Regions from separate parts of the Homo sapiens genome. Here regions 2 and 3 are each linked to region 1. The links come from fine-mapping of genetic effects on gene expression. A gene starts in region 1. Each other region holds a variant in brackets. All regions are shown on one strand. Distances are between the middles of the regions. Region 1 holds the start of RERG (RAS like estrogen regulated growth inhibitor). Region 2 overlaps RERG (RAS like estrogen regulated growth inhibitor). Region 3 overlaps RERG (RAS like estrogen regulated growth inhibitor).

Evidence for each region. PIP is the estimated chance that this variant, and not a neighbour inherited with it, causes the effect.
Region 2: its variant is the best candidate, but not a certain one, in a credible set for the expression of RERG in subcutaneous fat (FUSION, PIP 0.74).
Region 3: its variant is the best candidate, but not a certain one, in a credible set for the expression of RERG in atrial appendage (GTEx, PIP 0.70).

Annotation. Positions count from the first base shown.
Region 1 is chr12:15,220,047-15,222,814 of GRCh38, reverse strand. RERG (RAS like estrogen regulated growth inhibitor) reads left to right here and starts at 1,398. Exons shown (of 5, transcript NM_032918.3): 1 at 1,398-1,620. It overlaps LOC124902886, which reads right to left and starts at 2,147. Exons shown (of 1, transcript XM_047429948.1): 1 at 837-2,147. The coding sequence starts at 1,570. The coding sequence ends at 1,253.
Region 2 is chr12:15,115,983-15,118,750 of GRCh38, reverse strand. The region is part of intron 3 of RERG (RAS like estrogen regulated growth inhibitor); the gene reads left to right. Among named protein-coding and RNA genes, the nearest start is that of RERG-IT1, 2.7 kb to the right of the region's middle. The variant G/AAAAG (reference allele first, on the strand shown) is at 1,609.
Region 3 is chr12:15,147,168-15,149,935 of GRCh38, reverse strand. All of the region lies in intron 2 of RERG (RAS like estrogen regulated growth inhibitor), which reads left to right. Among named protein-coding and RNA genes, the nearest start is that of RERG-AS1, 3.4 kb to the left of the region's middle. The variant ACC/C (reference allele first, on the strand shown) is at 1,575.

The sequences.
Region 1 (2,768 bases):
TCTATCCTAAATCCAGTATGTAAAAAAGCTCAAACATATCCTATCACAACTTCTTCTTTATCTTAATTCATTCAATTCAGTAGGTATTCTTTAACTACCTACTATATGCCAGGCTGTAGGTATACACACTGTATGGATGATGCTGGGAATACAGAAGTCACACATGGTACATTCCTGGCTTCTGGGAGCTCACAGATTAATGGAGAGGACTAAGGGGCAGAAATGAGTACAACACAAACACAATGATAAGATCACAGGGTCCTGTGAGATACAGAGGGAGGCATCTAATCCAGATGTATGTGGTGTGGAGGGAGGGGTACATTAGTGATCAGGAAACTCATAAACCATACAATGTTTGAGCTTTCTCAAAGAACCAGCAGGGCAGCTCCTGCTCAGCTAGGCAACTCCTCTTTTTGCCATAGATCTAGCTGTTCCATTCAGCCATTCACTCGTGGCTGCAGTGACCTTCCAGGTCAGTCTGGACTCTGGAAATTGCCTCCATGGTTACCTCCCTTCCCATTGATGACATTCTACAGATCGTTCAGTTTGCCCTAGGCCCCTGTCTGTTCTATATAACACTGGTTTTCTGGAAGCCGTTTGGTATCTTGGTAAGAATACCCAGATTTATAAGGGAAAAACAATAACATAAGTGCCTCCTGCTTCTTTGCTCAGATGTTTCAGTTTTTGGGAGATCATTTAGCCTCTCTGAAGCTCACCTCCTCATCTGTGAAAGGCTAGTAATTATAATACTAGTTCTTACATGAAGAGAGGGTGTAAAAATCAAATCAGATGAGGGATATGAAAGCAGGTCCAGCACAGCTCGCATATTAATTGTCTTTGTTAGGGTCTGAGCATAATGGAGTATGACTCCAATGCAAATCCTATAAATGCTGATCCTGTAAGGAGGACGAGAAGCTTTTGGAACTTTCTCAAATATATGAATAGAATTTCAATTGAATTCCTTGTTTGTTTTTCCTAGCATCTCTCAGTTCCCAATCCAGTCTGGATTTCATTCCAGCCATTTACTAGCCTTGCGTTACCTTCTCCTTCAGTTTCCTCTTGGGTATCATGGAGATAATTAAAGATACTTCAAAGAGATATTGCGAGGATCATTTGAAATAAGGAATAGAAAACACCACGTAGTGATGCTTTCTTAGGCAAGGTTTTGACCGAGGAAAGCCGCCCTTCGGTGGGAGCCTGGAGGCTTGGAAATAACCAGTGAAAAAGGGAAGCCCGTCTTGGGTGCAGCACGTTAAAGACCCAAGCTCGCAAGCCTGGGAGGCAGCGCGGCGGGAGGAGCCTGCCCCTGCCCCCAGTAGGGGGCGCCGAAGCGCCGCACTGCAGCATCCTGGCCGCTGAGCGCAGCGGCCTTGGCCGGGCTCAGCTCGCGTCCTGCCGCAGTCCCTCCGCCGCTAGTCGGAGCGAGCGCGAGTGAGGAGACCCCCGCCGGGCCACTGGCACTTGCTTCTGCGGCGAGTCCCACCCACGACCGCAGCCCAGCAACTCGCAAACGCAACCTGAAGCCTGGGCTGCGCAGTGTGGGAGGGCTTCGCGATCTTGGGGGACCCATTCCGAACTTGCAGAGGACCGTAGCTCTCCTGGCCTGGAGAGTGTGAACAGGTGAGTGTCACGCACGTGTCCAGGCAGCTCTTTCGGGACGACTTCCTGCAGACCCATTCCGAGCCCTGAGCGCGCTCGGCCTCTGAGTCGGTCCTCTTGGTCACCGGGTTCTCCTCCCAGGGCGGCTTTGGGGTTCGCTGCGAGGGAGATGTGAACACCAGCAGCCTATCTTGACAGGGCTCTCCTAGCTGAGAGGGAAAATGCCCTTTTGACTTAAGGCTGCATTTTCTCCCTAGCCTGAAAGCAAGTGACTTGCAGTCCACAATGGATTTGTTTATTCTTGCAAGATACCTGTTGAGTTCAGAGCAACATTAAATAGCCAAGGGGCTTATACAATTATCCTGGTTTGCTGTGGGTACTGCGTAGTGATAAGAAGAGGAAGAATTCCTAGTAATGAGACCAGGAAAACTTGATTTCAGAACCAGAGAAGGGGAGGCCAAAAAAGAAGAGAATCTCATTTCCAGGCCTAGACTAGGGTCTTTGCTTCCCTAAATAGCTACACTTGATTTTGATGAGCGCATGCAAACAGAAGTTCCAAGCATGATTACCTTATAAAGACGCTTGCTTGCCCCACCCCCAAGAGGAAGTAGAAAGCATGAACCTTGATAAATATAGCCTTGAGAATGATTTATTAGGAATGAAAACTTTCTTTAAATAAGTAAGTAAATAAGGTTACAGTTATCTAAATATCATAGGTCTAACAGAGTGTAAGCTCTTCGAAGGGAACTACTTTTATTTGTATGTGCATAGCGTGAAAGTGTGGAATAAATCAATGAATGCATCACTAATAATACAGGATTTTAGCTAGCGTTTTTCCTTTTTCCTTTAATTTATGTTTAGGGAAAAAAAAACCTACACCTTCAAACTAAATAGGTATGATTTTACCTTTAGAGTGATAGCAGCTGAGATGTTTTTGTCCTAATAAGCACCATCCACATAAAAAGTGAATGGCAAATTTCAGCCCTACTCAGAATATTTCAGCAGAACATTAGGACAAATGGATTTTCTTAGATCCACGTATGGAAGCTCTCAGATTATGAATTATTTGGAACATCAGAAACTTGGCAACAGTTTACTTATTACAACAATTTACATATTTATTTTTGTTTTCTATCTTGTCAAATGTAACTTTTCACATTTTCATGTGA
Region 2 (2,768 bases), 100 kb after region 1:
AGGCATCTTACGTGGCATGACCATGACTGAGGGTGGGGGGGGGCATGCCAGACACTTTAAAACAACCAGATCCCACTAGAACTCACTATTGTGATGACAGCACCACGAAGGAAGGTGTTAAACCATGAGAAACCACCTCATGCTCCAATCCCCTCCCACCAGGCCTCACCTCTAACATTTGGGATGACAAATGAACATGAGATTTGGGTGGAGACACAGATCCAAACCATATCAGCTACTTTGACTAAAAGTTTCAAAACCACCACCAAAAGAGATAACTACATTAAAAAGCCAAGTAGCTTATATACAAGAAGCAGTCTTGAATTCTGAAGTCAGTGCTTTCCTGAGAAACATGGGGCAGTTTTTTTTTAAACCTGGAACAGAATTGTTACTCCACGAGAAGCTGAAGACTATGAACATCATTCTACATATTAACTCAATTAGAATATTTACTGCTTTGAAATAATTCAATGAAGAAAATGCTTGCTACTATAGTAGCAAGTGACTCCTAAACTTTTCGGTTTCAGACTCACTTTTTTAAATTTGATTTTTATGGAGAAAGCCTATCCTAATAATTCAATTAGGGATGCAGGCAAGGGAAGGAAATGGGGGAGGGGGAACTAAACCTACGCTCCACTTGCACTTCATAAAAGAAAGAAATTGCTTTAACATCCGAGTGTTTCGAAGGATACAATGTAAAAAAAATCAGTTCCTTACATTGAACAATTTTAGTTTTATTTTAATTTTCCTTATTATACTGTGGATCGGTGAAATCTTTGTGGGTGGCCAGCACACAGATGTCTATGAACCACATTTGAAAACCACCACTGAAGCTCATAAGATGTGCGAGTTGGACCATCTAACCATGAAAACCCCCTGATGGTGGTGGCAGCAATTATCTGATTGTAGAACAACAGGATCCATGTTCTGAATGGATCCCAACCAAGAATTGAATCCCTATCTCCAAGAGTCATATTACCCTCTAAGAATGCTGGTCACCACAGAGAATATAGATAGAGGCTTAGAATGTGTGTGCCTGTGACTGTGTGTGTGTGTGTGTGTGTGTGTGTGTGTGCGCGTGTGTGATGGAGGCATTTGGAGAGGAAGAGAGAGACTGTATTTCAGCCTCTATCACTACTGCGACTGTTACCTTGGAGGCACTGTGTTTGAATCTGCTTAGTTTTCTAAGCAGATGAGGATGGGAATGAGGAGACGTTAGACCCACTAGTTCTTTGGTTCTGTGATTGGTTCTTCTTGCCTGCCTTACAACTCCTGCTGCTTGGAATCGTTCATACGAAAATAGATACACCCAGAACAAATTATCTTAACCAGATTCTAAAGCAGAAGTGCTTAGCCAACTCATAGAATTATTTAATTATTTAATATTGGCACTGCAAGGAGCTTAGAGATTGTCATTTGACAAATAAGGAAACAGGTACCAAGAAGTAAATTTAATCAAAATTACATGTCCAGTTGTGGTTAGACTAGGAGTAGAACTCAACTCAGTACAATTTCCATTGTGGCATAAATCAACATAACTAACTGCTGCTGTTACTGTGCTGGCTAAGTGTCCATACTAAAGTGTTGAAATTCGCAAAAAAAAAAAAA[G/AAAAG]CTAAATCAGTAAAAAGATTAACCACATGCAATATCCCTTTGAGCACCAACTCCTCTTTGACTACATAAAATATGCTTCTAGTTATTAAACTACTAGTGAGTGCAGATTTTAAATTATACATCTCTCACAGTGAAATTGAAGTGTAACTTTTAATGCCTCATTCCATTTTGAAACTCATATTTTTCTTACAGTATACTATATTTTGGTTCACTTGGAACTATCTCCTAAATAATCATCCCCCCACCCTTCACCAAAAAAGGCTCAATTTATTATTTTTGTTTAGTATGAACGAAATCAAAAGCAAATCCACCAAACAAACACATACACATTTTCTTTTATGTATTAAGATGCATAGTGGAGTCTAATTTCAAAAACTACTTAGTACATTTTTTTAGAGTTAACTCTGGAAAAGTTAGCACGTAGATGCACAACACTTTACCTTTTCGGGCAATACTTCCATTGTTTTACACGTAGAGAAAATGGGCTTCTAATGAGAGAGAGAAGCTTAAAGAAAAAAAAATGCTTAAAATGGTATGAACCCAGTATTCACCTTAGACAAAATCACGCTACCACACGCTGCTATGTCTGGGGCAGACATTCTCTCATTTCCTGCATTTTATCCTTTTTGTTTCAGTTAACAAATAGCCAAAGAATCACACAACTTCATATAATTTTTATTATATTCCATTTCCCTCCTACTGTGGCATTCTGTAATTGAAATACATACCCTATTTATCATGGAAGCAACACAGAAAAATGTCCCTGTCTCTCAGACAACTTTTAGTGCAAAGAGATGGAATAGAGCCCAGAACTCTGTTTTCCAGTCTCTGGGGCTGATGCCAGTCTTTTCAAAAGGGAAGTCGGTACAAAGGACACTAAAGAACAGCAGAGGGAGAAGCCAAAGGGCATGGCTCCCCAGCATGCGTGATGCAGAATGGGCTGCTCTTCCTCACGCTGCAGCACTGAAGATGAAAAAAGAAAATCGTTGGGAGAACACTTGGAGACAAGTGGCTGCTGTAAATAGTATTTTAGAGCATTAAATCATACAAAACTATAATCTCCAATTTAACATAAAAGAGTAGGGGGATGGAATATTCTGAAATTGCGAATCACTGTGCATACACCATGTATAGATTACATATTCTAGGAGAATGACAAT
Region 3 (2,768 bases), 73 kb after region 1:
GCCATAGAGCGCAAAGGAAAGTATGACATGATCGATTAGTAATGTCTATCATAGTCACGAAACGAGGATGGTGGAGATCTGTAGGCTGGTCCTAGACACCATTTATGAACAGAAACAACTTTTCTTTAAAGTATTTTATTTTCTACCATTTCTAAATCCAGTATCCATGTGAATTGGCATGTTGGCATAATCATGCTGTTGGCTATTTAGTACAAATAGGCTAAATATTAACCTAAGAATCATCTATGTGCATGTAACTTTCTGCATTTGTCCAATAGATCTTTTGAGAGAAATTACTGGAAGTGGAATTCCTTTCATTAAAGTCTCCACCCTCTTCTATAGAAGTAGCACTTTTCCCCTCCAGTATGCAACACAGGTCACATTCTGCCATGAACTAGTATTGTTAATGAACATCTTTCTCCCCATCAGAACTGCAAAGCCCTTGAGTACTAATTCTGTCTTGTGCTTTCATGTATCATCCACCTCCCCTCCCACCAGTGCCTAGCACTGGTGTTTTCTTTGTTCATAGTAGATGTGGATACATTTTTTTGGCTTTAAATATAAAGATACATTTTACTATTAATATTTTAAAATATGTTAAGAATTAAGTATCAGAATTCAGTCTATATAAGGAAAGCCTGAGATGAAGTGATAAAAAATAGATGAAAAAGTCTTGATTTTTCAGAAAGAACAAATAAGCAAATAAACACAGCCCTGTTTTTCTCAGTCACTATTAGATATTGAACATTAAGAGTTAAAGGACTGCAGGCTGGGCGCGGTGGCTCACGCCTGTAATCCCAGCACTTTGGGAAACCGAGGCGGGCGGATTACGAGGTCAGGAGATTGAGACCATCCTTGCTAATACAGTGAAACCCCGTCTCTACTAAAGAATACAAAAAATTAGCCGGGCGTGGTGGCGGGCGCCTGTAGTCCCAGCTACTCGGGAGGCTGAGGCAGGAGAATGGCATGAACCCAGGAGGCGGAGGTTGCAGTGAGCCGAGACGGCGCCACTGCAGTCCAGCCTGGGTGACAGAGCTAGACTCTGTCTAAAAAAAAAAAAAAAAAAAAAAAAAAAAAAAAAAAAAAAACAGAGTTAAAGGACTGCAAATGAATTTAATGAAACTATTGCCCAAATGATTGATGTTCATGTACAGACCAAAATTTCAGTGCTAAATAGACATGTTAATAATGATGCTGGAATATACGAGTATTTAAAAATCTCCAAATTCCTGGGGAATTAGTAGTTGTAATAAAAGTGACTTCTTCTCATTCACTTCATGACTCCTTAATGTCTCTGCACTTGCTTGGTATCAGCGGCTTATTTAACAAGTCACTGCACATAACTTGTATTCCTTAATAATTAATACACTTAAAGTTTCCTATGCTTACATGGATAGAAATGTTTTCCCAGTGTCTTAAGTTTGATTCTTGCAACACTCATCTCTGTGTTCTTTCAGAAACAGGAGGCTCACTGTAGCTGACCAGCACTGGCATGGTCCTTCATTTGCTGTTTGTTTTTTAGGTCATTTCCCCCCCGCATTTCTACCTTCTTTATTCGCACCTTCTTTATTCAC[ACC/C]TTCTTGTTTTATTCCAATTAACATTCCCAATCTTCCTTTTGAAAATCCCAGAAGTCCCCATCATGGCCAGTCTGCCTAGCCTTCTGGGTGTCTTCTGACTTTATTACTTATAGTTCACTTGTAATTTGTTTTGTTTTGAATCCACCTACATACAGCCTTGTATTTTGGATGTTTTCTCTCTCTGGCTTTTTTCTCTCAGGTCACGTTATCTAAGAATATATTCCACTCACTCCCTGGGCTATAAGGATATAATTACACTGGTCAGAAAGACTCCCTGGCTTTGGTTTGCAGAATATGACCTTACATAAATATTATATATCAAAATGATTAAAATCTAGGTCTGCAAATGAACATCATTTCAAATTTGCAGTGTTTTCTTGCGTCTAACCACTCTGTAAGTGGAGATTCGAGATTTGGACACTCTTCCATGTTATTCTGGGAGAATCTGATATATGTTTTACATGTTTCATGTACATGGATTAATATTATCCATTAAGACTCACAGATGTGCTGTCCAATTCCTGAGACTTATTTTTGATTGTATAGAACTGGTAGGATTCCTTTGAATTTTAAATAAACATACATTTTCCCAAGTAGTAAACAACTCCATGGTCTCTCTCTTTTTGGTTCAACATCTAAATACATAAATTTCTTATAATCTACCTTTTAGTTTGCTCAGCTCTGATCCTTAATTGAACATTCTGGGTTAATATTGTGTTTGTTGTTGAATGTTCCTAAACAAGTTGTCACATTTTGAAACAAGTGTTCTAGATTAGTGGGCATAATTTCAGATACATGTTCTCTATGTATATGTATTTTAAAACAAAGTTTCAATTTCCTTGCTGCCCTCGGTATTCTTAAAAATAAATATACTTATGTAGAACTACAGTTAGAAAGTGATTCCAGTTTTTCTCTATCTTTATTCAGATTGTTTTGTACTGAATTAAGTAAAAATTTTTCCCCCAAATACCCATCTCATTTGGCTTGTAAAGACTGTTTTAGTGAAAGAATGTTACAAAATGTTTTTTTGCTGAAAGCAAATTTTACAACAGAAATGATGTTCATTTGCAAACCTGGATTTTAATCATTTAGATTTCTAATATTAATGTAAGGTCATATAATTCTGCAAACCAAGGCCAAGGAGTCTTTCTGGTCACCAGTATAATTATCAGTTTCATCCAATGTTTACTA